Linked DNA regions of Homo sapiens. The protein of the gene in region 1 interacts with the protein of each later gene in a pairwise test. Each region holds a gene or a part of one and is shown on either strand. Other genes may lie near its edges.

What was found.
Region 2: the proteins of WBP1L (region 1) and EPN2 interact in binary tests that used the Homo sapiens proteins (3 or more experiments, as listed by UniProt).
Region 3: the proteins of WBP1L (region 1) and GSN interact in binary tests that used the Homo sapiens proteins (3 or more experiments, as listed by UniProt).
Region 4: the proteins of WBP1L (region 1) and ABHD16A interact in binary tests that used the Homo sapiens proteins (3 or more experiments, as listed by UniProt).

Annotation. Positions count from the first base shown.
Region 1 is NC_000010.11:102,739,128-102,746,970, reverse strand, and holds the start of WBP1L (WW domain binding protein 1-like isoform 1 precursor), read right to left. Parts: upstream 3,024-7,843; 5' UTR 2,918-3,023; coding exon 2,828-2,917; intron 1-2,827.
Region 2 is NC_000017.11:19,282,362-19,289,384, forward strand, and holds part of EPN2 (epsin-2), read left to right. Parts: intron 1-588; 5' UTR 589-758; coding exon 759-1,353; intron 1,354-3,258; coding exon 3,259-3,429; intron 3,430-7,023. UniProt on the Homo sapiens protein: Plays a role in the formation of clathrin-coated invaginations and endocytosis.
Region 3 is NC_000009.12:121,313,155-121,320,177, reverse strand, and holds part of GSN (gelsolin), read right to left. Parts: intron 6,245-7,023; coding exon 6,155-6,244; intron 3,093-6,154; coding exon 2,960-3,092; intron 1,773-2,959; coding exon 1,684-1,772; intron 1,514-1,683; coding exon 1,298-1,513; intron 1-1,297. UniProt on the Homo sapiens protein: Calcium-regulated, actin-modulating protein that binds to the plus (or barbed) ends of actin monomers or filaments, preventing monomer exchange (end-blocking or capping).
Region 4 is NC_000006.12:31,686,452-31,693,344, reverse strand, and holds the end of ABHD16A (phosphatidylserine lipase ABHD16A), read left to right. Parts: intron 1-195; coding exon 196-318; intron 319-1,426; coding exon 1,427-1,541; intron 1,542-1,664; coding exon 1,665-1,766; intron 1,767-2,028; exon of another isoform or gene 2,029-2,587; intron 2,588-2,742; coding exon 2,743-2,806; intron 2,807-3,217; coding exon 3,218-3,267; intron 3,268-3,378; exon of another isoform or gene 3,379-3,640; coding exon 3,641-3,764; intron 3,765-4,225; coding exon 4,226-4,330; intron 4,331-4,558; coding exon 4,559-4,622; intron 4,623-5,039; coding exon 5,040-5,096; intron 5,097-5,241; coding exon 5,242-5,304; intron 5,305-5,444; coding exon 5,445-5,521; intron 5,522-5,604; coding exon 5,605-5,703; intron 5,704-5,800; coding exon 5,801-5,847; intron 5,848-6,049; coding exon 6,050-6,133; 3' UTR 6,134-6,390; downstream 6,391-6,893. UniProt on the Homo sapiens protein: Phosphatidylserine (PS) lipase that mediates the hydrolysis of phosphatidylserine to generate lysophosphatidylserine (LPS). LPS constitutes a class of signaling lipids that regulates immunological and neurological processes.

The DNA.
Region 1 (7,843 bases):
TCCAGGGCCTGCCTGCATAAACAAGAAATGGCTGTTTCAGTGCAGAGCTGGTAACAGGGAAAGCAAGTTGCCTAGTATCATTTATTTCTGATGGTAAATGTGTATGTAAAAAAAAGATTGTGCATGTAAAAAAAAGATTGTATTGTAAGTAGATCAATTTTGTGGGAGAAATGCAATAAGGTACCAATACCATTATTCGATACAGAATGAGTATAGTAAGTCCTCCTGAATTCAAAGTTAGCTGGACTTCATTGTTGAATTAAGGACCATGGGTACTTAAAGTATGCCCTGTGCCAAAATGGCCTTGGGATTTTTTTTTCCTTACTGATTTGTACAAGCAACCCCTTCCCCCACCCCCCCCAAAAAAACCCAAAAAAATACACTGACTAAATTGCGGTGGATTCAGAGTTAATAATTATATAGTAACTTGCATTCCGAAGGTTAAAATTCAAAACAGAAATCTCACTATAGATATCTAGTACTCCCAGACAGAAAGAGACAGGAGTATAAGGTGGGGGATGGAATTGTATAGGGAGCGTCAGGAGTGAGGGTATGTGGGGGCTGGTTAGGAAGAGGGCCACTGCTCATTACGAAAACTTTCCCTTCTCTGCAGGAATTGTAACCGTGTAACAGCTGTTGGTCAGTGATAGCATTCATCCAAATGGAACAAAGTACAAAAGACACCTGTCCCCAAAATTAAGTATTAGAAGTGCCACAGATATAAGAAAGCAGCCTGTGGTTTGCAAACTGCAATTAGAATATAACATTAACAATCCCCTTCCACATGTTCACAACACCTCCCAGGCTCCACGACCTGGTAGGAACCTCCACTTTCCATCATCCCCGTTGCTGAAAAAGTGGATCTAGTTCCTATCTTTGACCAGCCCATCTCCAAAGGCTCTGACATTCCTAAACCAAACCTCTACCGATGTTATTTATTGGTTACTGGGGACAGCCTTTTCGAGATACTTACAGAAACAGACATGTGCAAAGGAAAAGTAAATTCTGTATTTACTATATTCTATATTTTGTTGTCAATACCTATACTTAACTTTACTGGTCCTGAGGGCTATAACATTTCTAGTAAACAAAAAAAATATATTTCTTCTGCCAGTTTATGATTTCCACTGGAAAAACAACCCCAACAAAGGCTAAAACAGAAGGGTCCCAACCCTCGAAAAGGGAATACACTGGGCTAGAAAATGAGCTACATTCCTTTCACATGGTATTTCTAGTATACACAAACATATCCTGAGGAAAAATTAGACACTTCAATGCATAAATAAATTGTGGTTTACAGATAACAGAATGTTACTTGGTCATGAACAGGAATGAAGTACTAGTACATGCTACGATGTGGATGGGCCTTATAAACATTACGCTAAGTGAAAGGAGCCAGGCACAAAGACCACATATTGTAGGATCCCGTTTATATAAAATATCCAGAATAGATAAATCCATAGAGACTGAAAGCAGACGGGTGGTTGCCAGGGGCTGGGGGAAAAGGGAGACAGAGAGTAACTGCTTAGTAGGGACGAGGTTTTCTATTGGGGTGATGAAAATGTTTTGGAACTAGATAGAGGTGGTAGTTGCACAACATTGTAAGTGTACTAAATGCCACTGAATTGTTCACTTTAAAATGGTTTTTGTCATGTGAATTTCAACTTATTTTTTAATCAGTATTTTAAAATAGAGGATAATGGGCAAAACAAGATGTATTTGTGAAAAGGCAGCCCTAAAACTCCTAGGGAAAAGATAAGTATTTTTGCTGGCACTCAGTTTCTGCTCTTGTTCACAACACAAGTTCAAGCGCTAAGTTGTATAAACTTTGCCACTACGCTATGCGTCTATGTGTGTATGCCTTTCTGAAAAAACGGGGAAAAGAACAGAAAGTGAAGAAAAAAGAATCATAAAGCTTTGCCACATGCAAGGAAGGAGGGGTGATTGCCCCCACTGCACCCCACCCAACTTGGCACCAGGAGTAACGCTCCCATTAGGGTTTTGAAATGCCAGCTGGAGCTGGAATCAGCACAAGCAAGCTTCTCTGCCTGGATAAAGAGCAAGCCACCCAGCAAGAAAAGCTAGGGTGCTCCATTTGCTGCCCATATTGGCATCAGAACCACCCTCTGGTCAAAAGCCCTGAGCTGGCTCAGATCAGCATCCGTGACTTGCTCTCCCAGGCCAGCCAGCCTAACAGCAAGAGCTTGTTACAGCTCAAGTGTGCTCCTCCTCCTGAGGGGTTCCACTCTGTTTCATCCCACCTGCCTTCTGAGAGTCCTCCCTCCAACCAAGTGCGCCATGGCTTACAGATTTTAAAATGGGGCCAAGTCTCTCCCAGGAACATAGTAATTTTTTTTAAACGTACTAAGATGCCCTCGGAACTTTCCCCAGTCCATCCTTAAAGAAATATCCTCAGGATCCCCTCCCTCACAGGCCAACTCAATAGCCTGTGTACCCCTACACACACAGACGTACATACTGCATTACTGCCTGGGACACCTGCTCCACAGAGGGACACGAATAAGGCCCACATCCTCAGCTTGGCACCGCTATCCAGCCACAGTCACCCCAGCCCACCTAACCAACCTGCCGTCTCAAACGCCCCTCACTCGCTTGGCATCATGCCTCTGCCACCTCCTTGACACCAAAACTGTCACAGGTGTCCCTCAGCTAAATACCGACGCCCCTTTAGATCCTGTCCACGCCAGGCATAGACGCCCCTCTCGGGACCCCTCAACTCTTGGCAACAACACTCCTTCAGACCCCTCCAGCCAGGCCTCGACGACCCCCAGGACCCAACATGGCCCAGACGCCCCCTCCCCCTTACCTGCGGGGGTTCAGCCCTGGCTGACAAGGGGCTGGGCAGCGCCTGGAGGAGCAGGAGCGCCATGCCACCCAGGAGCCTTCTCCTCTCCATCCCCCTCCTGCTCCTGCTCCTCCGCCACGGCGCCGCCACCTCCCTCCTCCTCCTCCCTCTCCTCCTCTACCCTCTTCTTCCTTCTTCCCTTCTTTTCCTGTTTGACGCTCCCCTCCCGCTTCCGGCTCTGCTCCACCCCGCCCCGCGCAAAACACCCTCCCAGACACGCGAGAGACTCTCCAGTTCCAGCGCTTCATTGGCCTTTGCCCTTTGTCCATTGATCAATGTAGCTGTCGATCAAATATAAGTCCCGCCTTCCCCTGAAGACGAAGCGATGCAGCCAATAAAAAGTAGGAGGAAGCCGGACCATCTTGAATGCTGCGAAGAAGTGTAAAATTCGTCCCAACCCGCAGAGAGTGGCGGAAGCAGCTTCATAAGGGGGCGGGGCCACCCAGGTGGATGGAAAAGTCTATTTCTGATGTAGCCATCTTGAGTGTGGCGGAAGTACTAGTTTTCCAGTTTTCCACATCAAAAAAAGAAAAAAGGTTTAATGTTTCTCAAGGGTGTTGGAAAATAAATTATTCCTGAAAGGTAACCAGGCGCTCCTGAAGAGGAAAACAATTGCAATGTAAAAATATTTTAATGTCTTTTGTCTTGAAGCACAGCACTATTACCAGGATGCCTCTCTTGGTCTCAACTGCCCAAATAGCAGCTTAGGTCCGTTTGAATTCCCTAGAAGATAGTACCTTTATCTGAGGCATAGTGCTTCGTCACCCCAAGTTCGACGGACAAAATTCTGGTTCTACTTCACAAATTGCTCTGAAATCCATCATCCATTGCTTCAATCCATGTTCTTCTAGCTAAATACAAATGGCTTCCCTGCTGCCCTGCAAGTTGACAATTCTTCCTCTCAAATTTCCGCCACACACTACAACCATACCACATTAAACCAAATATTACTATATCATGGCCTCTTCTTTTAAATACTTCATCTACCTACAGAATAGAGAGTCCAAACTTCCCAACACGGTCCTCTCTGTGACTTCGTCCCTGTCTACTTCTCTTTATCTCACCTCTCACCACTACATTTTCCCACACATTCCACTCACACTGACCATTGAAGAGATGCCCAGTAACTTCATTTACATATTACAGATACAGTTCCCTGCTTACAAACTCCTAGCCCCATCTCCTTGCTGCTTCTTCTGGATTCTTGTAACACTTATATCTGCGTGCCTGGTTTGCAGTTTTTTGTACAGCATACCAGGTCTTTCTTCTTCTTCTTTTAAAGCCTATAATATCCTGTACAAGGCTCAACCAGAGCTTGATCAATGTTGGTAAAATAGCCAGGTGTGGTGGCTCATGCTTATAATCCTAGCCCTTTGGGAGGCTGAGGCAGGTAGATCCCTTGAGCTCAGGAGTTTGAAACCAGCCTGGGCAACATGGAGAGAACCCTGTCTCTACAAAAATAAAAAAACTAAATTAGCCAAATTAGCCAAGCATGGTGGTGCACACTTGTAGTCCCAGCTACTTGGGAGGCTGAGGTGGGACAATCACCAGAGCTAGGGAGATTGAAGCTGCAATGAGCCTTGATTGTGCCACTGTACTCCAGCCTGGGCAACAGAGTGAGACCCTGTCTCAAAAAAAAAAAAAGGCCAGGTGCGGTGGCTCCTGCCTGTAATCCCAGCACTTTGGGAGGCCGAGGTGGGCGGATCACATGGTCAGGAGTTCGAGCCTGGCCAACATTGTGAAACCCAATCTCTACTAAAAATACAAAAAATTAGCCAGGCGTGGTGGTGCATGCCTGTAGTCCCAGCTACTCAGGAGGCTAAAGCAGAAGAATCGCTTGAACCTGGGAGGCAGAGGTTGCAGTGAGCCAAGACTGTGCCACTGCACTCCACCCTAGGTGACAGAGTGAGACTCTGTCTCAAAAAAAAAAGAAAAAAAAAAGTTGGTAAAATAAATGGACAAAGGAAGACCCATGGCAAATAACACAGTTGACTTTAGCAGTCAATTTCCTCTCAAAAACCTGTCAAAGTGTTTTACAGCCTGGCCCAGTCTAGCCCACATCTGAGCCCAGAGGAAGTTGTTCTTGGCTTAAGTGTTGGAAAAATGGGAAACAGGTAAGAGTTAAGTCAGTCTTCCCTCAGCTTAAGAAAGTCCATAGTTCTGCCTTTATCTTGATCCTGCTTTTCCAAGTACTATAAAAAGTGACACGTATTTTTGCCAATCTCTCGTTTCTTAGAAATTTATCCATTCCACAAGTCAAGCTCCTTAGAGGAGAAGTAAAAATTGAGTACTAGGGAAGGACCAAATTATTTTCATGGCACAAGGTCTCTAATTCCTGGCCTCAAAAAGTTGTAAGTCTTCCACATAAAGGCTAGGTTTCATCATCACTAAGAAACCCCAGGTGGGATGTAGTGGCTCACGCCTGTAATCCCAACACTTTGGGAGGCCAAGGCATGAGGATTGCTTGAGGTCAGGGGTTCAAGACCAACCTGGGAAACATAGTGAGGCCCTCTGTCTACAAAAAATTTAAAAATTAGCTGGGCATGGTGGCATGTACCTGTAGTCAGGAAACCTTTAGGATTCTGGTTCTAGCCAGGATTGAGGAAAAGACCTTGGATCAAAAGGAAGCTTCTATACCTCTTCTTCTTCCCTTCCTCCTCCTCTCCCGAGCAATGGAACCTTTTACCCATGCTATTCTAGCCGAACTCAGGAAAAAGAAGCTACTCGGGAGGCTAAGGCAGGAGGATCACTTGAGTCCAGGAGGCTGAGGAAGCAATGAGTCATGATCATACCATTGCACTCCAGCCTGGGCAAGAAAGTGATACCCTCTTTCTCTCAATAAATAAGAAACCCCAATTCAGTTTGGCAAACACAGGGGATTTTGCCCCAACTTCCCTTTCTCCTTTTACCTGAAAGCTCAAGCTGAGCTATTGGATAGGACAGTCTGGATTAGCACTTCCCACACCAAGGCCTTTTAGTAACCTTAACTGCCTCTTATTCAACATCCCACAGCAGCCAACTCAAAGAAGAGAGATGTTACAAAATGAGACTGAGATGCAGTTTGAGTGACCACTTTTTAGAATGTCCCTGAACATTATAGCCACCACATACCTTCCAGACATTTCCAAAAGAGCAGTTGTCTATAAGAGAACAGGAAATCCAAGAGGCTTGAGGAGCTGAGAAGGAAGGGGAAACATTGTATGTTCTGAAAGAACATCAGTCAGGAGTTGTTTCCAAGCTCTACTGGCTCTGGTAATGTTTCCCTTTTCCTATTTGCTTTTGGAAATAAAGCCAGGTCTCCTGTCCTAAAGAAGCTAGCTCAAAGACAGACTTTTCTGTTCAGACACCAGCTAAAATCAAATTGCATATGCTACAACATGGATGAACCTTGAAAACATTATCCTAAGGAAAGAAACCAGACACAGAGGGCCACATACTGCATTACTCCACTTACATGAAATGTTCAGAATACGCAAATCTCTAAAGACAGGAAGTGAATTGTGAGGCGCTGGCAGGTAGGGAGAATGTGGAGTGACTGCCAATGGGTATGGGGTTTCTTTTGGGGCTAAGAAAAATGTTCTGAGACCAGATGCAGTGGCTCATGTGTGTAATTCCAACACTTTGGAAGGCTGAGGGAGGAGGATCACTTGAGGCCATGAGTTCGAGACCAGCCTGGGGCAACATAGTGAGACCTCATCAAAAAAATCAAATTAGCCTGTGGTCCCAGCTACCCCAGAGGCTGAGGCAGGAGGATTACTTGAGCTCAGGAGGTTGAGGCTGCAATGAGCAGTGATTGCACTACTGCACTCCAACCAGGGTAACAGAGTGAGATCCTGTCTCAAAATAATTCTGGAATTAGTGGTGATGCTTGTACAACTTTGTGACTACATTAAAAACCACTGAATTGTACACTTTAAAAGGACTAAGTTTATGGTATGTGAGTTATATTTTAACTTTTTTAAACGGGGAGAAAAATCAAGTTGCAGTGAATTCCTTGGCCTCGGGGAGGAGGCCCTTTCCCCTTAGAGCAGTGCTCCTCCACGTATGGTGCCAAGACCAACAGAATCAGCATCACCGGGCAATGACTAGAAATGCACGTTCTCAGGCTCCAGCCCAGAGTGACAGAATCTGGCAATGGATCCTGCAATCTGTGCTTTAACAAGCCTGCCAGCTAATTCTGATGTGTTTTCTTTTTTTTTTTTGAGACGGAGTCGCCCAGGTTGGAGTGCAGTGGCGCAATCTTGGCTCACCACAACCTCCACCTCCCAGGTTCAAGTGATTCTCCAGTCTCAGCCCCCCGAGTAGCTGGGATTACAGGTGTATGCCACCACACCCAGCAAATTTTTTGTATTTTTAGTAGAGATCGGGTTTCACCATGTTGATCAGGCTGGTCTCGAACTCCTGACCTCAGGTGATCCACCTGCCTCGGCCTCCCAAAGTGTGGGGATTACAGGCATGAGCCACTGCGCCCGGTTGATGCATGTGCTTAAGAACCACTGCTCCAGGGCAGGGGAAACTTTTTGTGTCAAGGATCAGACAGTAAATATTTTAGGCTTTGTATGCCACATAGGTAGGGTCTCTGTCATTCCTGTTGTTCCCTTTTACAACTCTTTAAAAATGTAAAAACATTCTTAGCTTCCAATTGCACAAAAACAGGTGGCAGGTGGATTTGGCCCCTTGAGCCATAGCTTGCCAACTCTTGCTCTAGGGCAACACAGCTCCCATTCTGGGAGATCTGGAGCTTCCTGTGGAGACAGGTGGATTTCCCCTTTAATGAGGGAAATAAACAACAGCCTCCAGGCATCAGACAAGTTCCCCTTATATAGTAGTTGTGATACCTTCTGACATGCCAAGGCCAAAGTAAGGCCAGATCCTGCTTTCCATTCAGGCTTCATTAACTTAGTTTACAGTTTGTGTGTATGTGTGCCTGTGTGCTCTTTCAACAAATTTATTCAATTCACAGTGATATCTGTTGGA
Region 2 (7,023 bases), on another chromosome or scaffold:
GGAAACACAGTGGACCAAAGCAGTTTTGAAGGTATTGACAGGCATTTTTGAGTTAAGATAGACCTGAAATTAGTCTCTTTCTTGTCCTCATGTGTATTTTTTTTTATTTAAATAAACTTTAAAAAAATAGAGATGGGGGTATTGCTGTTTTGACCAGGCTGGCCTCAAGTAATCCTCCCATTTCAGCTTCGCAAAGTGCTGGGATTACAGGTGTGAGCCACCATATCTGGTCTCACATGTAATTTTAAATCTGCCAAGATCAGCTTCCCCCAGTGTTTCCGATTCTTCCACAGCTGGCTTTTGCCAGGCAGTGAAAAGACAACCCATAAAATAGCCATTCCAGTGGAAGTGTTTTGAAAATAGAGCAATAGTCATGATGTTTACTTCTTTTCTCCTAAAGGCTTAAACTTGAGTGTAAGTTTTATTCATTGTTGACTGGTGATATTGATTTTATCTTGGGTTCGTCCTAAGGAGGCTGGGTATGTCCACTCAGCTCCCCAGTTTTACCCAGTACCTGCTGCTGGACCACAGTCTCCCACCCTCACAGGGGGCTTACGTCGCAGTGGAATGGGTTTTCTCTTTCTCTAGGTCATGGCTTCCAGCTTTTCGAATCTGAGGCTCCAAAGGAGGAAATGACCATTCAGGGATCTTACTCCAGCTTGATTACGGAGACTGAACCTTCATAGGGTGCGCACTTACCAAGGACAGGAAGGTTTCTCTGTTTGAAGGGCTTTAAACTTATAACAAAGAAAATAAAAATGACGACTTCGTCTATCAGACGGCAGATGAAAAACATCGTGAACAATTACTCAGAGGCAGAAATCAAAGTCCGGGAAGCCACCTCCAATGACCCGTGGGGCCCGTCCAGTTCTCTGATGACCGAGATTGCCGACCTGACCTACAACGTGGTGGCCTTCTCGGAGATCATGAGCATGGTGTGGAAGCGGCTGAATGACCATGGCAAGAACTGGCGGCATGTGTACAAGGCGCTGACCCTGCTGGACTACCTCATCAAGACAGGCTCCGAACGTGTGGCCCAGCAGTGCCGGGAGAACATCTTCGCCATCCAGACCCTGAAGGACTTCCAGTACATTGACCGAGATGGCAAGGACCAGGGCATCAATGTGCGTGAGAAGTCAAAGCAACTGGTGGCTCTCCTCAAGGACGAGGAACGGTTGAAGGCTGAGAGGGCCCAGGCTCTCAAAACCAAAGAGCGCATGGCCCAGGTTGCCACTGGCATGGGCAGCAACCAGATCACCTTTGGGCGAGGCTCCAGCCAGCCCAACCTCTCCACCAGCCACTCGGAGCAGGAGTATGGCAAGGCCGGGGGCTCCCCGGCCTCCTACCATGGCTGTGAGTAATGGAAGTGCTTCTCACCCTTTGCCAGAGCAGCAGCAATGGGTGACAGGCAGGGTGGGTGTCTCTGGGCTTAGGGAGTGGTGGCCACTGCAGAGCTCGAACCTGTCCTCAGTACCCAGCTTTTGGTGGCCCAGGCAAATTGTCCTTGGTCTGGATTGAGTTTTGGTTATAAAGGGACTTTTAGTCCCTTGGCTGCTCTGGTTCAGGGATCTCTAACGCCCTTTGCTGCTCTGGGCCTCATTCTGTACATCTGGGCAGACGGTGGGCAGAGGCAGGTCTTTTCTGCTTCCTTGTCAGAATGGGTCTGGCAGCAAAGGAGTTGTCCTGCTGCACATACAATGGGGAGTTGACTCTGGTAGCCAGGAGGAAACAAATGCTCTTTCTTGATAATCTTGTTTCTTTAATCTCATATTAAGTGTTTTTCTGCTGACTGAGCTTCAGGTCTCTTGAATGGCTCAGTATTATTCTACTTCAGCAAAAAAACTTGTACAGGTTGCTAGTGTGAACAAGGCCTCCCTGCCAAACATGCAAATGAGAGTTGCTAGTGATCTGGTTGCATGGCTGGGTCTGCATTGAGTTCTGGTTTTGCATGTTGGATTAATTTGGGTCTTTGCCTTATGGTCAGAAGAGGTTTCAGGGAACAGAGTGGAGTTCAGGGCCTGATGGAAGCTGGTCTCTGTGAGTCACATTGGCATCCTGGCTGTTCATTGGAAGTGGTCCCCCAACAGGTGTTTCTCCATTTTCACAGTGCTATTCCAGCCACAGTGTGGACCCCACACTCAGAGAGACAGGTGGCCCTAGTGGCCTTTGGGGGACAGGGTGAGGATGGAGGTGGGGATTGTAGAAATTATATCTTCTGGCTGCTAAAACAAAAGTGCAGATCCCTAGTAACACTATGTCAGCATAGCAGAAAACTTCTTTTTAAAGGAAGTTGTCTGTAGTTTGACAGACCTCAGTCAACCCTTACTTAGTCAGTGTTCTGTTACCAGACCATTTACTAACATTTCCTGCTTTTGCAGGTTTCGATTTGACATTGTACCGCCACCACTAGCATTTTGAGAAATGTGTTAAATGAGAGATTTGCATATTAAAGTCAGATTTCCTGCTTCTAGGAATTCTGAATTATTACCGAGCTTGGAGCAGGTTAACATATTCTTGTCCCATATGTAGTTGTCATTTTTCTTCTTAGTTTGAACTGTTTTGCTTAAGCAAAGGTTGTGACCTTGGTTAAACCACTTGAAAACAATTTAACCTTAATCTCCAGAAGCCTCAATGCAGGGTTAAATTGCACCAAAACAAATGAAGATTGCCCTTTAAGAAGTGAAATTGTTTTATTTCTCTCAAGGATCCTCTTACCAACCCCCAGAGAGGCTCTCTTTGGATTGAGTTGGTCCCAACCTGCCTTGACTTCCTCTGTCCCTGTGACTGTGGCTGTGGCTTTGATGCAGGCCAAGGGGAGCTGCCATTCTCTTTATGTGCTTTTCATGGTCATTATTCTCAAGAAGCCAGAGGATGCTAAGCAAGGAGCTGAAACAGCTTCATGTTCCATGAACAATTTGTGGAACTTTGCAGATGCAGGGGTTGGAACAGTGGGGATGCAGGAGCCTGGTTTGATCCACCCCTCCTCCTCATACCGAGTCCAGGGCCTGTAGCCATAGGTCCTGCTGGGCTAAATGATACTGCTGCAGTTCCAGCTGTGATGTTTTTGGTTCCCTCAGACCTTACGCTTGAGCTGCATGTTCAGGGTCAGAATGTGGTCAGTGGGCTTTTCACAGCTTCCACCGCAGTGGGCTGCGGGGTTGACCCCGAGTGGCCTTGGCCCGTACCTCCTGCAGGGGCTGCTGCGCACCCTCTAATGGCGTGTCTCTCTGTGTGTGTGTGTGTGTCCCTGCCCCACAGCGCCTGAGGCCTCGCTGTGCCCCCAGCACCGCACAGGGGCCCCGCTGGGTCAGAGTGAGGAGCTGCAGCCACTGAGCCAGCGCCACCCCTTCCTGCCGCACCTGGGGCTGGCCTCCCGCCCAAATGGCGACTGGTCCCAGCCCTGCCTCACTTGTGACCGCGCAGCCCGAGGTGGGACGGCGGTTTGCTTTTTTCCTTACTAGAAATGCTGGGCAGCTTGCTGGGGGTGTGCTTGCCATGCCAGTACAGCCAACTCTCTCCCTGTCTCCTCTGGGCCTGGGGGTTTGGCCTCCAGCAGGCCCAGGAGCCCTTTCTTCCTCTCTCCTGGGAGCTTGTGGCCTGGTCGTGCTCCGCTTCCAGGATCACATGTCACTTGCTAGAAGTTCTGTCAAAGGTTTAGCAGGGGAGCTGTTCTTTGGGTAAGGCATGGGGTGATGGCCCATGCTCTCCCCATGCTCCCATTCCCTGACAAACTGGAGGGGGCTCTGCCACCTATCAGGCCCACCCATGGTGGTGGGTCAGACAACTTGGCTTGTTGGACCGGAAATGTGTGATTTAAACCTCACAACACCAGACAAATATAAGATCCTCAGTGATGGTCATTGGAAGCCATTATCCTTAATGCAGTAATGTATGCCTTGCCCTGAATAAAATGGGATTTTTTTTTTGCTTCCCAATTAACTGCTGTTCTTCCTGAAATCCCTGTTACCATGGAAAACAGAGAGTTAGCTGTACTGTCAATTCTAGGTCACGGTGTTTGAAGATACCTAATTCAATGGGTAACTAAAAATGGGGCTTCTCTTTCTACTAATTAATAATGTATCCTGATCAGAGCCTTACAACTGTAGCAGGTTAAACTGAAAACAGATTTTCACTGTTTCCTACAAGAAAATGCTCTCAGTCTACCATTGGTCCCAAGTGGGTTCTCTGCTACAGGGAAGAAAGGTGTCTGTTCTCTTCTACTCTTCTTACAAGAAGGGGCACGACAGAGAGCTTTTGTGCGACTTCCCTGATAAGGTGACCAGCCTTTATTCAGCCCTGGAAACAGTTACAGTTCATTCATGCCTCATTAATATTACAGCTTGTTTGACTTGGGTATTTGTGTAATAACTATATTTAACTCTAGGATATTTTCCTTCATGTCCCTGTTTTCCCCTAACAGTTTATACAGGATTTTGGCTTCTTCTAAACTGACATTAGAAAACGTAAGGAAGGCCAGCTCTGCACTGTAAAGAATGTAAATGATAAAAGCATTCGTTAAAGGGTCACCCAGAGGCATTGGAGTTACATGCCCATTTCACCCCCCCAGATAGTCAGAGGCTGCTGTTCTCAGCAGGTCCCGCGGAACTCTCCATGGAGTTCCCTTTTTGTTTTTCCCATGTTCTACCCATTTGGTAACTGACAAGGTCTGTTTTGAGCCTTGGTGGCCAATTTTGTGTTACCCTGGCCCTCTAGCTCTCCCGCTGGCAAACTGGCTTTCCTGGGACGTTTGCATGTTAAATACAGCCTGGCAGGCCTGCAGGCTGGCCATCTTCCCCCACTGCGGCTGTCTTTGGCCCTGCCTCTGCACCTTCGCCTGTGCCATTCCGTTCTCTCTGCTTGGATATCGCTCCCACCACCTGCCCCCTGTTCCCCCAACCTGGCAAGTTGCTTAAGGTATCCACCCCGTGTGGATTTATGTTGTCCTTCAGCCCTGATAGGAGTTGAAGATAAAAATGAGTATTTTTTTCTTTGAAGATTTCTCATGCCCCAGATGAGTTTTGAGCAAACAAGTGTTATATGGATTGCATTTCATCCTTTAACTGTTGGGTGTGGCATCCTCTCCACATCTCACTCCCTCCCCGTCAGAGGGTAGGGGGCTGTCGGAGTCCAGGGCAAAGATTCTGGCCATGTTTCTTCTCTGTTCTTTCTTGATGCTTCACAAAGGGTTGAGTATAAGGTAAGTGCTTAATCTATGCACACCAGTGGATTTGTTTGGAGCACACCTTCTTGGAAATCAGCAGTGGGAAGGTCAGAATGATGCCGGCCATTCAGAAAACTGTCAGGTGAGATGCAGGCTGTGATTCAGGAGAGATGTTTGTGAGGGGTGCATTTGGGACTGCAGACCCCACAGAGGCAGAGGAGGCAGACTGCTCAGAAGCCCTCTTCACATGAGAGCAGCCACAGCCGGGAAGGCCTCTTGTGTGACTGGCGATAATCATGAGGATGTCTGAGGAGAGCTTTCTTTCATGTGCCATATGTCATCTCATCCTCCCTGTGCCCCTCCCTCTCTCTCACCTCCCACATAGATCTGTAGATCTGACCTTGGAAGTCTCTTGAATTGTCCATCTTGTTCCATGGCCTCAATTCAGTGCCAGCCTTCTGACCAATTTCCTGCTGTCATTATCTCCCAGTCTCACCTACCCTCCATCTTCATAAAGGATGCCCTGGTCCTGAGTCTCAGCCCCTTTAGATGCCAGGCCCTGCAGGGCCATCCCAGAGCCTTTGACGTTGCAGACCTCAGTTGCTTCCACCAGCTGTGTCCCCTGCCCTCAGTCTGGGGGTCCTCCTGTTCCGGCGGAAGCATTCCAGACCTTCCCAGGCCTGCTGACGTCTGCCTGCAGGCACAGCTCTGGGCTTTCCTTTTGAAGCCTGGTCTACCTGCCCTCTGCTCTGTATTTATTGAGTTCCCATGGGGCACCAGGCACTGAGCACAGAACAGAGCCCCTTGCCCTCGTGGAGCTTATATGGTAATGGGAAAGAAAAACACAATATAAATTATTCAGCATGTTATGTAATGAGCGCTCTGGAAAACAGCAAAACAAAAACAGTCTTGCTTGAGTGTCTTTGGGGAGGTAAGAGAGGGTGGCTTGCAGTATGAATGGATCAAGGATTGAAGGAGTGTGAGGGTGAGCCTTGTGGAGGTTGGAAAGAGCCTTCCAGGCAGAAGGGCAGCTGTGCAAAGGCCCTGAGGTGGGAGTGTGCTCAGGGTGTTTGAGAAAAGGCAGCCAGTGAGGTGGCGATGAGTGACGGAGCATGGCCAGTATGTGGGGGTGGAGCGTGGCAGAGGTGGGCCTGGAGGAGGTGTGGGGCAGGGCCTCTCAACTCTGTCTGGTTGGGAGCATTCCTTGAATTCCTAGTCCATCCAGACGGGTCCTTTTGTGTCCATGTTTAGATGTTGTGCCGATGTCATTGCTAGGAGCTTTTGAAACACTTTCACTGTGCTTACCTTGCAGACCATGCACTCAGTGGCCCGGTGCTGGGCCTTCTGGGTTTATGTCAGAAATTTCTTTGACTTTCACTCACAGTGAGATGGGGGAAGATGAGGGTTAGGAGGATCCCTTGGGGTGTGTATGGGCAAGGTGGGAGCAGGGAGCCAGGTCAGGAGGCCACTGTCCCCATCCAGGTGGGAGATGGTGGGGGTCTGGACCTGGCAGGGCTGCAGAAATCTGGGCAGTAGCCAGGTTCTGGGTATGTTTTTTTTTTTTTTTTTTTTTTTTTTTTGAGACAGAATCTTGCACTGTCACCCAGGCTGGAGTGCAGTGGCACGATCTCCGCTTACTGCAAGCTCTGCCTCCCGGGTTCACGCCATTCTCCTGCCTCAGCCTCCCAAGTAGCTGGGACTACAGGCGCCCGCCACCACGCCCGGCTAATTTTTTGTATTTTTAGTAGAGATGAGGTTTCATCATGTTAGCCAGGATGGTCTTGATCTCCTGACCCCGTGATCCGCCCACCTTGGCCTCCCAAAGTGCTGGGATTACAGGTGTGAGCCACCGCACCTGGACG
Region 3 (7,023 bases), on another chromosome or scaffold:
TCCTAGAATCTCTGGATTTTGAACATTCTTGAAGGTGATGGAGTGGGATGAAACCCCACTTTACAAGTGAGAAAGTGAAGCTCAAAGAGGTTATGTAACTTGCCCAAAGTCTCACAGTCAGGCTGCCAGGGGTCTTACCACACCGCCCCACCCGAAATATTTTCATTGCATTCTCCCTAGCCACTGAAGCAACAAATGAATGCTAGCACCAAACCAAAAACAATAATATATAAAAATGAACACTTTGTTATTCCTATCATTAGGAACGGAGTCAAGTTTGCCTGAGGCGGATTCTACCTCCTAAACACCTCTGAACCCCACACCCCTCTTCCCCTTCTCCACTGTGACCTTCTTAGTCTCAAGGTCATCATCTTTCCCCTACAGTATTAGAACAAGCTCCTTATAAGCTCTCTACCTTCATTTTCCTGCCTCCAATCCATTTTCTTAGTTTTCTTTTTATTTTTCTTTTATTTATTTTTTAACTGATTTTTTTCTTCTAATGATATCCTGGAGTCATATTCCAACCCATTTTCACAGTGAGTTTCTAAAGCAGGTGGCCGGGCGCAGTGGCTCATGCCTGTAATTCCAACACTTTGGGGGGCCGAGGCAGGAGGATTGCTTGAGCCCAGGAGTTTGAAATTAGCCCGGGCAACATAGCGAGACCCTGTCTCTATTAAAAAAAAAAAAAAAGATAAAGCATAAATCTGAGCCTGTTGCATGTCTGATTTAATAAAAAGAAAAACCCCTCACTAGCACCCACTGGTTAGAGGATCAAGTCTACACCCTTGAAATTGGCATTCAAGGCCCCTCCCTGGGGATGCCATCAGCACTAGCCCCCTGGGATAGCTCCCTCCTTTCCGAACATAGCGAGTCCCTCCTGGAATGCCCATCACTCTCCGCTCTTCCTCTCCGGCAGCAAAGCTCTACTCCTCCTCTGAGACCCAACCCAAAGGTTCCCATCTCTGTGCAGGCTGCCCTGACCAACCACCCCCACTGCTTCCTGTGTCTGCACAATCCCCTGTGCTCCCTCCCATCTTCCACTGATCACACAGGTCTGTGGCTATGGTCAACTCCCCTCCCAGACCAGGCACTCCTCGGGGCAAGGTGGGGCCAAGACACTTGGCTCAGGGCCTGATACACAGGGTGCATTGGCTGTAAAAACTAAGTAACACCAAAGAATCTCAGCTACCAAAGTTGTGCAAACCTCAGAGAGAAACCTCCTTGGGGAAGCAAGAGGCAGTGCATGGGGAAAGTGAGGGAGGGGCCTGGACACACCCACCCCACGCCCTAAACGTACCTGTTTCTGGCCTGTGCCATCGTCATCCATGCCGTGCTGGGCGGCCATGGCAGTGGAGGTGTGCAGGGTGGCGGCGTCGAAGGGCACCCGCTCCACGTTGGCGATATGGCTGGAAAGGTAGGACAAGCCCAGGCCATCTGTCTGGTCTGGGTCCCGCCAGTTCTTGAAGAACTGCTTGAACAGTGGGGTCTCACCGCCCTCAGGAAGGACCGAGACCTGGGGAGGGGAGGCAGAGGAGCAGGATGTGGCTGGGCTGCCCAGCAGGGGTCCCCAGGGGAGCCTCAGATACCCCATCCACACTGAGGGTGGGACACCCGCCCTACTCCAGCCCATCCCCTCCAAACAGGACCCACCCCTTCCCATCCTACCTGGCCTCCAAGACTCACCTGAGTCTGCTTGGGGTAGTCCATCTTGGTGATGAAGTCAGAGGCTGTTTTGAGGGCAGCCTTCCTCTCCTCCGTGTTTGCCTGCTTGCCTGTTGGCAGCCAGAGGAAGTGATGGAGGGTTAGAGGCCCGGGATCCTGCTGCATCCTGACCTTTAACAGTCCAGGAGAAGGAGCTGCCAAACTTCCCTCCCTACTCTTCTTAGACTGTGGACAGCCAAGGCCAGAGACCCCCAGAGCCGACCACTCACTAGAGCTCCTGGTGTCCAGCCTGGGGCTGGCCAGTGACACCAATCACAACACTACTGTGGTCCATTTAGTGAGCATGTATTTTGTGCTTAGAACTATGCATAGATTATTTAATTCACAGAATAGTCTTAAGTAATAAAAAAAGTTGTTATCTTTTTCTGAGTATCTATAAGGAAGCTAGGGTCTTAGAGAGATTAAATTACTTGACCTAGGTTACTCAGTGAGTGAGAAGCTGCCACCCTGAGGGCATTCCCGTGCCAAGGAGCTCCTGGCCAGCCAGTGCTGGGCCTCAGTCCCAGCCTTCTCACTGCCAAGGCCAAGGTCCAGATCAGCTGGCCCAGGGCCCAGGGGGCCTAGAGAGTAATAATCATAATAGTGTCTCTCTCTCTCTCTTTCTCCCCACCGTCTCCCTTTCTCTCTGTCCTCCTACTGCCTCCCTCTCCTCTGTCCTCTTCCCCAAGATGAGCCTTAGAGAATCAGGGGAGGATATTGATGGGTCCTCTCAGAACATCTCAGGGCCTCTGGGAAACATCTGGGCCAATGGTTTCCAAGAGAATTCCCACAAGATAGTACCGAAAGAGTTTATGAACTTCTAGCTTAGCATTTCCCAAACCAGATCATCTTCATGAAAAGCCCCCCTGTAAATGAACAAGTTAAAAGTCCTACAGTAAACAAACTCGAACATTTTAAAATCCACTGTTGCCCATGAATTTATCTGACCATACAGTTAGATGTTTTCTACATAATTTCTACAGGATGCCAATTAGCCTCTCAGAGAACTGACGTTATAATGCACTTGGGAAACACCCATTTTAGCCCAGATCAGGAATCTGAGGCCCAGAAAGGGTAAGTAAAGTGCCCAAGATCACACAGTATGTCAAATGCAAAACCAAGGCCTCAGCCCAAGACTTCTGATTTCCATTGCACCAGGCACACTCCACACTCCCCGGGAGCTGAGTTCCTGGGAGCTGCAGAACATCCCATCCAAGATCCTACAGGCCAGTTGGGACCCTTTCCCTGTCTCCAGTACCTTTCCAGACAAAGATTTTCCCATCTTTGCCGTGGTCCAGGATGAAGCAGTCCTCTGACTTCAGGGCCCCCTGGGCGAAGGGGTTCTCATCAGCCACGAGGGAGACGGACATGGTCCCTGCACCATTGGAGACCTGAGGGGACGAAGCAGAAGGAACCAGCACATGAGTGTCTGTGGCCGCCCAGCCCTGAGACTTCCACCATCTTGCCCCACCCCCTGTCCCAAATGGCCCTGTAGAGTAACACCTGGGCTTCCTCTCGCACACATTTAGAGGTTCTTTTTCGTTTTCTGCTTTGTCAGAACCACATCTGCTGACCTACACGCAGGGGTAACACAAACTGCACATGGGAAGGGAGGGCGGGATAAAATTTGGGGAATTGGGTGCAGAGGGGAACTGCATAGTTTGCTGAAAATGTATTCAACTTTACTATTCAAAAAAAAGAGAAGAGGCCGGTTACAGTGTCGCACACCTTTAATCCCAGCGCTCTGGGAGGCCCAGGTGGGTGGATGGCTTGAGCCCAGGAGTTCAAGACCAGCCTGGGCAACATGGCAAGATCCCATCTCTACAAAAAATACAAAAAGTAGCAAGGTGTGGTGGCGCTTGCTTGTGGCCCCAGCTACTTGGGAGGCTGAAGTGGGAGGATCACTTGAGCCCAGGATGTCGGGGCTATAGTGAGCTATGATTGCGTCACTACACTCCAGCCTGGGTAACAGAGCCAGACTCTGTCTCAAAAATAAATAAGTAAATAAAAGAGAAGAAAAGAAAAAGAAAAGTAAAAAGAGCTAAATGCAATCTGGTATCCTGGATTGGAACCTAGAATAAAAAACTGGGGAAATCTGGCTAAAGTCTATAGTTTAGTTAATGGTACTGAAGCAATGTTAATTTCTTAGTTTTGACAAATGTACCTGGTTATGCTAAGATGCTAAGGAGAAGCTGAGTGAATGGTATATAGGAACTCTTTGTACTATCTTTACAATTTTTCTGTAAACTTAAAAATTATTCTAAAATAAAAAGTTCAACCAAGCTCAAAAAAAAGTTCTATCTTAAGAGTCAAAATTCAAAAGTTTAACAATATCCAGTTGGCAAGGCTCTGGGTAAACAGGCATTTAAGATCCCTGATGACAGTAATTTGGGAGCTGTTCCAGAGTACAGTTGACTGTGAGGTAGCAGTCCTTTAAATAATAATTATTCTACATGAATTGAGTACTTACTACTCTGTGCCAGTCACTGTTCTAAGCAATTTCTATAACTTGTATAATTATAGAACCCCTTTAATCCTTGCATATGATAGTTCTGTTACTATCCCTGTCTCATTCACAAGGAAACCAAGGCACAGAGTGGTTAAGGAACTTGCACAGCTAGAAATAGCTGACCTGGAATTCAAACACAGGTAGTCTGACTCCTGACTCCAAAACCAGTATTTTCTTTTTTTATTTTATTTATTATTATTATTTTTGAGACGGAGTCTCACTGTTGTCGCCCAGGCTGGAGTGCAATGGCACTATCTCAGCTCACTGCAACCTCCGCCTCCCGGGTTCAAGTGATTCTCCTCCCTTAGGAGGAGAGCTAGGATTAGAGGCACCCGCCACCACGCCTGGCTAATATTTTGTATTTTTAGTAGAGACAGTGTTTCACCATGTTAGCCAGGCTGGTCTCGAACTCCTGACCTCAGGTGATCCGCCTACCTCGGCCTCTCAAAGTGCTGGGATTACAGGGGTGAGCCACCATGCCTGGCCCAGAACCAGTATTTTCAACTACTGACTCATTCTTCGGCCTGTGACCAGCAGTTCCTTGTCTAGGAACTTGCCCTAGTGCTATGCTGTACTTAGCACAAGTGCACCAAGAGGGACTGTCTGCAACTGGAAAAGGTGGAACATCCTAATGTCCATCAATCAGGATTTGCTTAAATTCTTACATTCATAAAATAAAATACTATACAGCTGTTATAAAGGGTCGTGTTGAGATTTATTATAGAAAGATATTCCCGACCATGTTGAGTGGAAAAAAGACCACACAACAGCATGAATAGTTTGGATCCAGTTACACAAAATAGAAATGGCCGGGAGCGTTGGCTCAGGTCTGTAATCCCAGCACTTTGGGAGGCTGAGGTGGGCAGATCACATGAGCCCAGGAGTTTGAGACCAGCCTGGGCAACATGGCAAAACCTCGTCTCTACAAAAAATACAAAAGTTAGCTGGGCGTGGTGGCGTACATCTGTAGTCCCAGCCACTTAGGAGGCTGAGGCAAGAGATCGCTTGAGCCCGGTAGGCAGAGGTTGCAGTGAGCTGTGATTGTGCCATTGTACTGCAGCCTGGGTGACAGAGCAAGACCCTATCTCAAAATAAAATAATAAGATGGAAATGGAAAAGTAACTAGGCACAGAAAGCTGTGGCTGGACAAAGATGTGTTCTCTCATGAGGAGGAGAGGCTGATTTTTTAACTGGGTATTGTCATTTTTGTAATTAAAACATATTTTAAAAGTAATACTGGTTTTTTAAACCAGTGAAATTGCATGGACTTTTATTTTCTTTTTATATTTTGAATACTTTTTTTTCTTACAATAAACATGTATTACTTCATAATCAGAAAAAAAATCGATAATGTAGTAGTTTTTCTTTGGCAGTGGTGAAAATCGACATCCCCTTTTTGTTGTTTTACTGAAAATACTTGGGGCACAACGTAAGTGTGATTGAGCTTTCTCCCAGAGCTCAGCCAAGAGAGTTCCCTAGCTGAAGCTAAGCCTGAATTCAGTTGTGAAAATCACAAGAAAGAAATCATAAATAAAGTCATTAACTATAACCCACACCCCCAACCTCCCCACATACACACCATTTCTGTAGTATTTCCCCAAGTATTTTCTAAGCTGTTTTCACATCCATTTTATCTGTGGACTCCCAGAAATCCTACAAAGTCGACCATTCTGCTCTTCTTCCCACTTTACAGACTAGGACACTGAGACTCAGAGAGACCTCATGTATGAGCGTGACACAGATATGTACGGAGTTGATCGCATGCTCTTAGTGCAGGAAAGCAAAGGAAGTACACGAGCATCCACTGGAGACGTGAGAAAGCTGAGGCCCCCCTCCAAAGGGGTGCTTTGCTCAAGGTCCCATAGCAGTGGAGTGGGGAAGACCAAGTCTTCCACCTCCCTGTCCTGACCCCATGCCCAGGCAGACAGTGCATCTGGTGCTCACCTTGTAGAGCTTGGCCAGCTTGCGGTTGGCCGCATCCTCCTTGGCGGTGTCCTCGGTACCTGCAGGCAGAGCCGGCTTGGGGCCCAGCACCTGTAGGAGATAGAGAGATGGAGAGGAAGGGTGGCTGTGAGGGAGGGGCCAGGCTCCTGAGATAGCTCCCAGGCAGGCAAGGATCACAAGGACATCCACTGTGACCCTCCCCATGGAGTCTGACCTCCTCCAGACACATCCTGCATCTGCTCACATGTCCAGATCTGTCCATCAGAGGTCCCTTCCACCTTGTCTCCCTGACTCAGAAACTCCAGGAGAACACTCCTGCTCCTCTGCCTCCAGACAGCGCTTCAGATATTTCGCCTACCGGCTAATTGTGATAACTATAGCTACTGAACACCTTCTACCGCCTACCTTTAAAAGATGTCACTGCATCCTCGCAGCCAGGCCAGGAGGCACAGATTATCACTCTCATTTTACAGAAGAGGAATCTGAGGTCCAGAAAGATGAAGTCACCTACTCACACAGCTATTAGGTGGCTAAGCCAGAATCTGAACCTCCATCCCTGTGGCTTCAGAGCCTATTTTCACTCCCACTGTCCCTCCCAAGCCATGGTTGGTGTCCAGGTCCCTTCCCATAATAATAATCACCATTCTGCTCTCTCCAAAAGCTGGAATTGGATGCCCCCAGAGAAGCAGGAACCAAGTGACATGGAGCAGAGCTCATGGTCTTCTCCTTTTCCTAGTGAATCTTGCCTCTATTGATACGTCCTCAACGCACAATGGCTGGCAATCCCACCATGTGACTAAATGGGCCAAAAACTACCAGAAATAGTCAGAAGAGAAAAGAGGGGATTGGGGCTCAGTGGTCTCTTTCTG
Region 4 (6,893 bases), on another chromosome or scaffold:
CTTTTGCTGTATCTCTCCCCTTAGAACCATTCCAGAAAATCTCTGCTCTGCCCTCCCACCTCCATGCCCTCTCAGGTCACAGTGCCTGCCTTCCAATGCCATTATGTCGTTCCTAGACCCCACTGTTCTCCAGACCTCAGACATCCAGCTTGCTGCTCCTGACCCTATCCTTCCCTGCATCTTTCCCTTCCTCAGGAAGGAGTCTCGAGGGGGCCCTTCCCGCCGGGGTGTGGCCCTGCTTCGCCCAGAGCCCCTGCACCGGGGGACAGCAGACACCCTCCTCAACCGGGTTAAGAAGCTGCCTTGTCAGATCACCAGGTGGGAAACAGCAGCGAGGAGAGGCCCACTGGGGTGGAGGGGCCATTTCAGGAGTGCTCTGGGAGTGGGCGCTCCATTGTAAAATAGCTGTCACTCATTGGGCCTAGTGCTGTATGGTTTGTGTAGATCATTTATGGCAAAGTCATTTTTATCCATATTTATGTTTGAAGAAAAGAGGCTCAGAGAGGTCTGGAGTCTCAAATGTAGTAAGTAAAGAACTGGGATATGAACAAAAGCTCCTTCAGTGAGGCTGAAAAGGAGCAGTGGGGGTGGGGTGGGGGTGGGGAGGACACACACTTGTAGCTAGGGCAGGCTCTGGTAGCATCTGTGTACCCATCGTGGCCCCTCTGCCCTGTTGTTATTCCACCTTGGCTCCGGGCCCCTGTGTGCCTCAGTGTCTGCACCTGTGATGAACCTGCCCTGCAAGGTTGCTGAGGAGATTAAGTAAGGTAACATGTTCTGAAGGGCTCCTGCCTTGCCTGGGTGCTTGAGAGCACATGGTAAATCCCAAATAAAGCTCAGTCGTGGGTACTGATGATGTCAGAAGGAACGGAAATAACCACCTATATCTTATAGTGGAACAGACACTGGGAATTTTCTTTTGCTGGGAGTTAGGAGGCAGCTTCTAGAATACCAAGGAACAGGGTGGACTTAGTGGTTGGTTGTTGACAGTGTGCTAATTAGTCAGGGAGGCAAGCCATATTTGAGGTTTTGAATTATAACCATCATTTTTTAAAGCATTATTTATTTGGGGACCTTTAATATGTTGTACTTATATTTTAACAGAATCATAATCTGATGATAACTTTGCATTTACTTATTATGTATAGACAGTTACATCATAAAACTCTCAGAATTCTGTACATACAGGATATGTGTGCACTGAGCCACAATATAAAATGTTTATCTTACAAAGGTTGCAGTAAGAAAAGTTTGCAAAACACTAGCCTGGTACATATTTCATTAAGGCTTGAAAGAGGAAAGTAAAGCTGTGAAGGTCAGGGGTAAAGCAGGCCTTACAGTCTGTGAGTGCTAGGGCTGGGATGGTCCCCAGCACAGTCCCCAGGCCTCAACAGGGTTGGGGTTTGTTAACCTGTGTTCCCCACAGCTACCTGGTGGCGCACACCCTAGGGCGCCGGATGCTGTATCCAGGCTCTGTGTACCTGCTGCAGAAGGCCCTCATGCCTGTGCTGCTGCAGGGCCAGGCCCGACTGGTGGAAGAGGTGAGGCTTCCCTGCCCGCACATCCCCTAAAGCCCTCCCCTCTCACCCCCACCCACCCCGCCCCACCCCTGTGATGTGGCCTCCTGACCCTTGCATCTTGGCCATTGCGTCTTCCGTACTCAGTGTAATGGGCGCCGGGCAAAGCTGCTGGCCTGTGATGGCAATGAGATTGACACCATGTTTGTGGACCGGCGGGGGACAGCTGAGCCCCAGGGACAGAAGCTGGTAAGAGGGAGCAGAGAGCCCAGAGGTGGGGTGAGTGTGAGGAAGGCAGTAGAGGTCTGGGGACCCCAATGCTATAGCACCTCCCTGAAGGAACCACTACTGGGGATAATCTCATGTCCTAGCTCCACGCTAAAGACCTTGTGATGTAGTGAAACCCTGTGATAGAGAAACAGATGAAGTAGGAGAGACGTTCAAGGACGAGAAACTAATATTAATAGTTACCACTTTGACAGCACTTCACACTTATATATATTTAATTCTCATATATATATGAAGCATATATATTTAATTCTCAAAAGAATCCCGTGAGATAGGTACTGCTTATATTAGCCCATTTTACAGGAGATGAAACTGGGGCACAGAAAACCTTTCCTGGACCTCACAGTAAGTGGTAGAGCTGGTATTTGGACCCAGGCAGCCTGGCCTCAAAGTCTCCTACCTCCATGAAGCAGCCGTGGAAAGAGCGCTAAGCCAGGAGTCTAGGGAGCTGGGTTCTAGTCCTGGCTCTGCCCATCTGTTATGAGAGTTCATGCAAATCCCACCATTCGTGGGTTTCAGCTTGGGGCGCCATGGCATTACAGTTTATCTGACCATAAGACTGGAGCTCAGAGAGGGATAGGGAGAGCAATCAGCATACCACACAATAGCAATGGTCACAGAAGATAACAGACCCGAAAACGAGAAAGGAAAAACATCTCCATAGTCCCCTTCCTGAAAGAGATCCAGCTGGTAATCTTCCAAGGAAAAGACATGGCTGGGTGGTCGAGCAGGTCAGCCTCTGAGGAGTATTTGTAATCCCTTTGCTTCTCCTCTTATGGACCCTGTGGAATGAGAAGCTTCCATTCCCCTTGGAGAAAACAGAAACCTGCCCTTTCCTCTTCCCTGCAAAGCTCTTCATGGGCTGCCCTCCCTGCCCAAAGGGAGTTTTTCAGTCCCAACTTGGCCCCCCAGCCCTTCCTTCCTGCCTCCTTCCTAGGTGATCTGCTGTGAGGGGAATGCTGGGTTTTATGAGGTGGGCTGCGTCTCCACGCCCCTGGAAGGTAGGACGGTGACTCAGCCTCCTTATCTCCGCCCTTTGAAAGGGAATGTCCCTGCCTCCCACACTGACCTGACCTCCCCTGGCCTCTGCTTTCTCTGGGTGAGGTTTTGAGTCTCTCAGCTTTAGGGAAAAGTCCACTCGCCATTTGCTTTGATAACCTTACATCCCTCCCCTGGCCTGTGTCCCTAGCTATTATGCTTTTCATTCTGTTCCATTCCCCCACCACACACCCCACACAATCACATGCTGCTCCCTGTGCTGCCTCAGAACCTCTGGTGTCATCTCCTATTTCTGGGAAGGCTTGGAGTTATTTGCATCTAAGCTGGGGGGTACTTCTGCTCTTCCTTCCCCCAGGGATGGAGAAAGGGCTGTGGGCCACAAGGTCTCAGTCCCTCCTCCCCCTGTGTTACAGCTGGATATTCAGTCCTGGGCTGGAATCATCCAGGCTTTGCTGGAAGCACGGTGAGACCATCTCAGGAATCCCTTCCTTTTCCTGAATTATGTCTGTTTCCCTCTGGTCAGCCATTGGAGGGAGGAGAGGGGCTGTGGATTTCTTGAAGGCGTCCCACTCACCTGAGGGCTGGGGTCTAGGAGGTTGTGAAGGCAGCATTGGGAGCCATGCCCCCATCCCCACAGTGCGGGGCTAGCAGGAGAGGAGGAGGTAGATCTCATTGTACACATCCGTCTTCTGGAGAGAACAACCTCTCCTACCATCCCTTCCTTCTACACCTTCTCTGCCTGTCATAGGTGGCTGCAGGAGGGGTCCACGTTGGGAGGGACAGGTGAGCTGGCCTTTGGTGCTGACACACTCCTGACTTTGCCCTTTCTCCTGCAGGGGGTGCCATTCCCGCAGAATGAGGCTAATGCCATGGATGTGGTGGTCCAGTTTGCCATCCACCGCCTAGGCTTCCAGCCCCAGGACATCATCATCTACGCCTGGTCCATCGGCGGCTTCACTGGTACCAGCCTCCCTCCCATCCCCCACTGTAGACACATTCATGACCACCCAGCCCCACCCGGGAGAGGTGGGGAAATGGGGTGGGGTGGAGGCTCAAGGAAGAAGAGAGAGGAAGTAGAATCTCTGAGTGGGCCTGGAAGAAGCTATCCTATTTGCATACACTTCACCTTTCCTTCCCCTCTTGTGCCCAGTCATTAAAAGGAAAAGCAGACCCAGGTCCTGGGTGGGGAGATCAGGGAAAGTGAATGTTTCCTGCCCATTATCTTCAGTGCACTATCTCCAGTGTTCTATCCCCATCCTCTCCAGATAGTTCCCTAACCAAGTGAAGTAGGTTAAGAAAAAAACAAGGGATAACATAGGGGGAATGGGGTTGGCCTATAGGGTCAGTGGGATGAGAGCATGGGTGGTGGGGAGAAAGGAGCCTTTCTCAGTTCTTACTCTTCTTCCCTGCCCTGGTACCAGCCACGTGGGCAGCCATGTCCTACCCAGATGTTAGTGCCATGATCCTGGATGCCTCCTTTGATGACCTGGTGCCCTTGGCCTTGAAGGTCATGCCAGACAGCTGGAGTGAGTGCAGCTCCCAGGCCTGCCCTTCCTGGGAAGGGGTGGGCTGGAACTGGGAACTGTTCTGAGATGGCTCCCTTTTCTTGGGTGGGGAGTAAGTCGCCCCATTGTTGGAAGCAGGAGGACTCCTTTGTCTGGGGGCCTCAGTTTTCTTTCTCCGTGAATAGTGAGGACCTTTATGTTGGGCAAGGGCTTTGTCTCTGCCATCCCTTCACCTTTATCCCACTCTAGGGGGCCTGGTGACCAGGACCGTGAGGCAGCATCTCAATCTAAACAACGCGGAGCAGCTGTGCAGGTGAGGGCCGGCCAGCGTCCGGCATTGAACACCTGCCCCCCATACAGCTCTGCTGGGCGCTCAAACCCTGAAACTAGTACTAAAGTGCAAGTTGGTAAAAGGCCACTGGCTCACATCCTGAGTGACCCTGCCACCACCTCAACTGGCCTAACCCCTCCCAGGTCCCCTGGGACTCTGGACCACCTCAGGATCTGGCAACCAAAGGGTTAAGGCCTGGCACGGCAGGGGTCTCCCAGCAGGGCCAGACTGAACCATGCCCCTTAAATAATCCCCTCTCACCCCTGAGTGAAGGGCTAGGTCAAGGGCTGTGCTATAGCAAGGGGAGGGTAAGAATGCTACCAGTGCAGGGATAGGGGTGGGCCAGTTGTCACCCGTCTCCCTCTGAGCTCTCCCTTCCCACTGCTCTGTTCTCTGAAGATACCAGGGTCCTGTACTGCTGATCCGGAGAACCAAGGATGAGATCATCACCACCACGTGAGTGCGTGGGAATCTCGGCCCTCAGGAACCCCAGAGATGGCCAGGAACTTGTCCCTTCTACCTCTGCCCACCAGAAACCTGGGTATCTAGACCCTTCCTCCTAACCTCCAGCCCCTCCAGGGTACATTCTTCTCACCCCCAGGGTTCCTGAGGACATCATGTCCAACCGAGGCAATGACCTCCTGCTGAAGCTCCTGCAGCATCGGTGAGAGCCAGGGTGTGTGCGCGCTGGGGGCAGTGTACACACACAGATACTGATACCAGCACAGGGAAGGAGGGAGGAAGGTTCAGGGATGGTGAATGAAAAAAAATCAGCCCTGACCTGTCCTGGCACTTCCTCCGTAGGTATCCCCGGGTGATGGCAGAGGAGGGTCTTCGAGTGGTGAGGCAGTGGTTGGAGGCCTCCTCACAGCTGGAGGAAGGTGAGAAGGGATCCAGTGAGGCTTGGGGCGGGGGCCCAGCAAGGTCAGGTTGCTGACTGGCTGTCATCTCTCTCCCTGACCAGCCTCAATTTATAGCCGATGGGAGGTGGAAGAGGACTGGTGTCTGTCTGTCCTCCGCTCCTACCAGGCAGAACACGGGCCCGACTTCCCCTGGAGCGTGGGTAAGGAGCTCCTGGGGCAGGAGAGAGGGTGGGAAGGGCCTAGGAAGGGGATGAATACCCAGATGTGTGGCCTATTTTGAGCGCCTCCTCTCTGCAGGGGAGGACATGAGTGCAGATGGACGGCGGCAGCTGGCTTTGTTTCTGGTGAGCTAAGGAGTGGGAAGTGGGAAGGGTTCTTGAATGGCCAGGGCTCACATAGGGGGACTGGGGATACCCTATAAGCATTGGAAGTGGCAGCTTTTGTAGAGTGGGTGGTGGATGCGGAAGTGGAGGGTGGGGAGGGAGTCCAGTGGCTGCCCCTCCCAACAGTGCTCTGTACCCCACCTGTCCCACCTCCTTTCCTCAGGCTCGGAAGCATCTGCACAACTTTGAGGCCACTCACTGCACCCCACTCCCAGCCCAGAACTTCCAGATGCCCTGGCACCTCTAGGGACCAACTGGGACTCATTATGGAAGAATGGGGTGAGAGGAGACATGAGGAAAGACCCTCTTATTTGTGATTCTCTGTGTTCATGTTGCTGTTTATAGTTTGTGGAAAGTGGGGGACCATCCCCCTTCTCACCACTGTTCCTCTTGCACGTTTCCCCTCATTCATGTGGCTGTACTTAACCTTCTCCAACATACATCCTGCATTACATGAATGGATTATTCCTAATAATTAATAAAAAGGTATTTTTTCTACTATCAGGCTAATTGTATAACTTCTCAAGTGTCCAGGGAGCCAGGGGCAGGTAGTGGGGAGAGCAGAGGCCCCAAAGAGCTGGGCTTTGGGAAACCCTAACTCTAGACAATCTAGCTAATCTAACCCTTCCCATCTCTGTGTCCCCCTAGGCCTTCAGCCCCTAACCTGAGCTTTCCTCAGGCAGCAGGTCCCCAAACCTCCCCGGTCCCTGATGTGCCTACTGTTATCACAACTGTGCAGCCTCCCTGGCCCCTCCCGCCTCCTTCTTCAGTTCTTCCTGCATACAACCACCCCAGGAGCCCATGGTTGCCCCCTCCTGCTTACGGCTCATGAGCTTTCTAGGATCCGATTTCACCTACCCAGTGCTTCTGCTGGTTTCCAGGTTCAACCTGCATGGTGTTACTAGCAGTACCCCCAATTTTCATTGCTCACCTCTTGTTATCTTGGTGAAGAGTGAGGAAGGGCCTGCTCCCCACGTCTTATGCAGCAAACCCTGCACACCCACCTT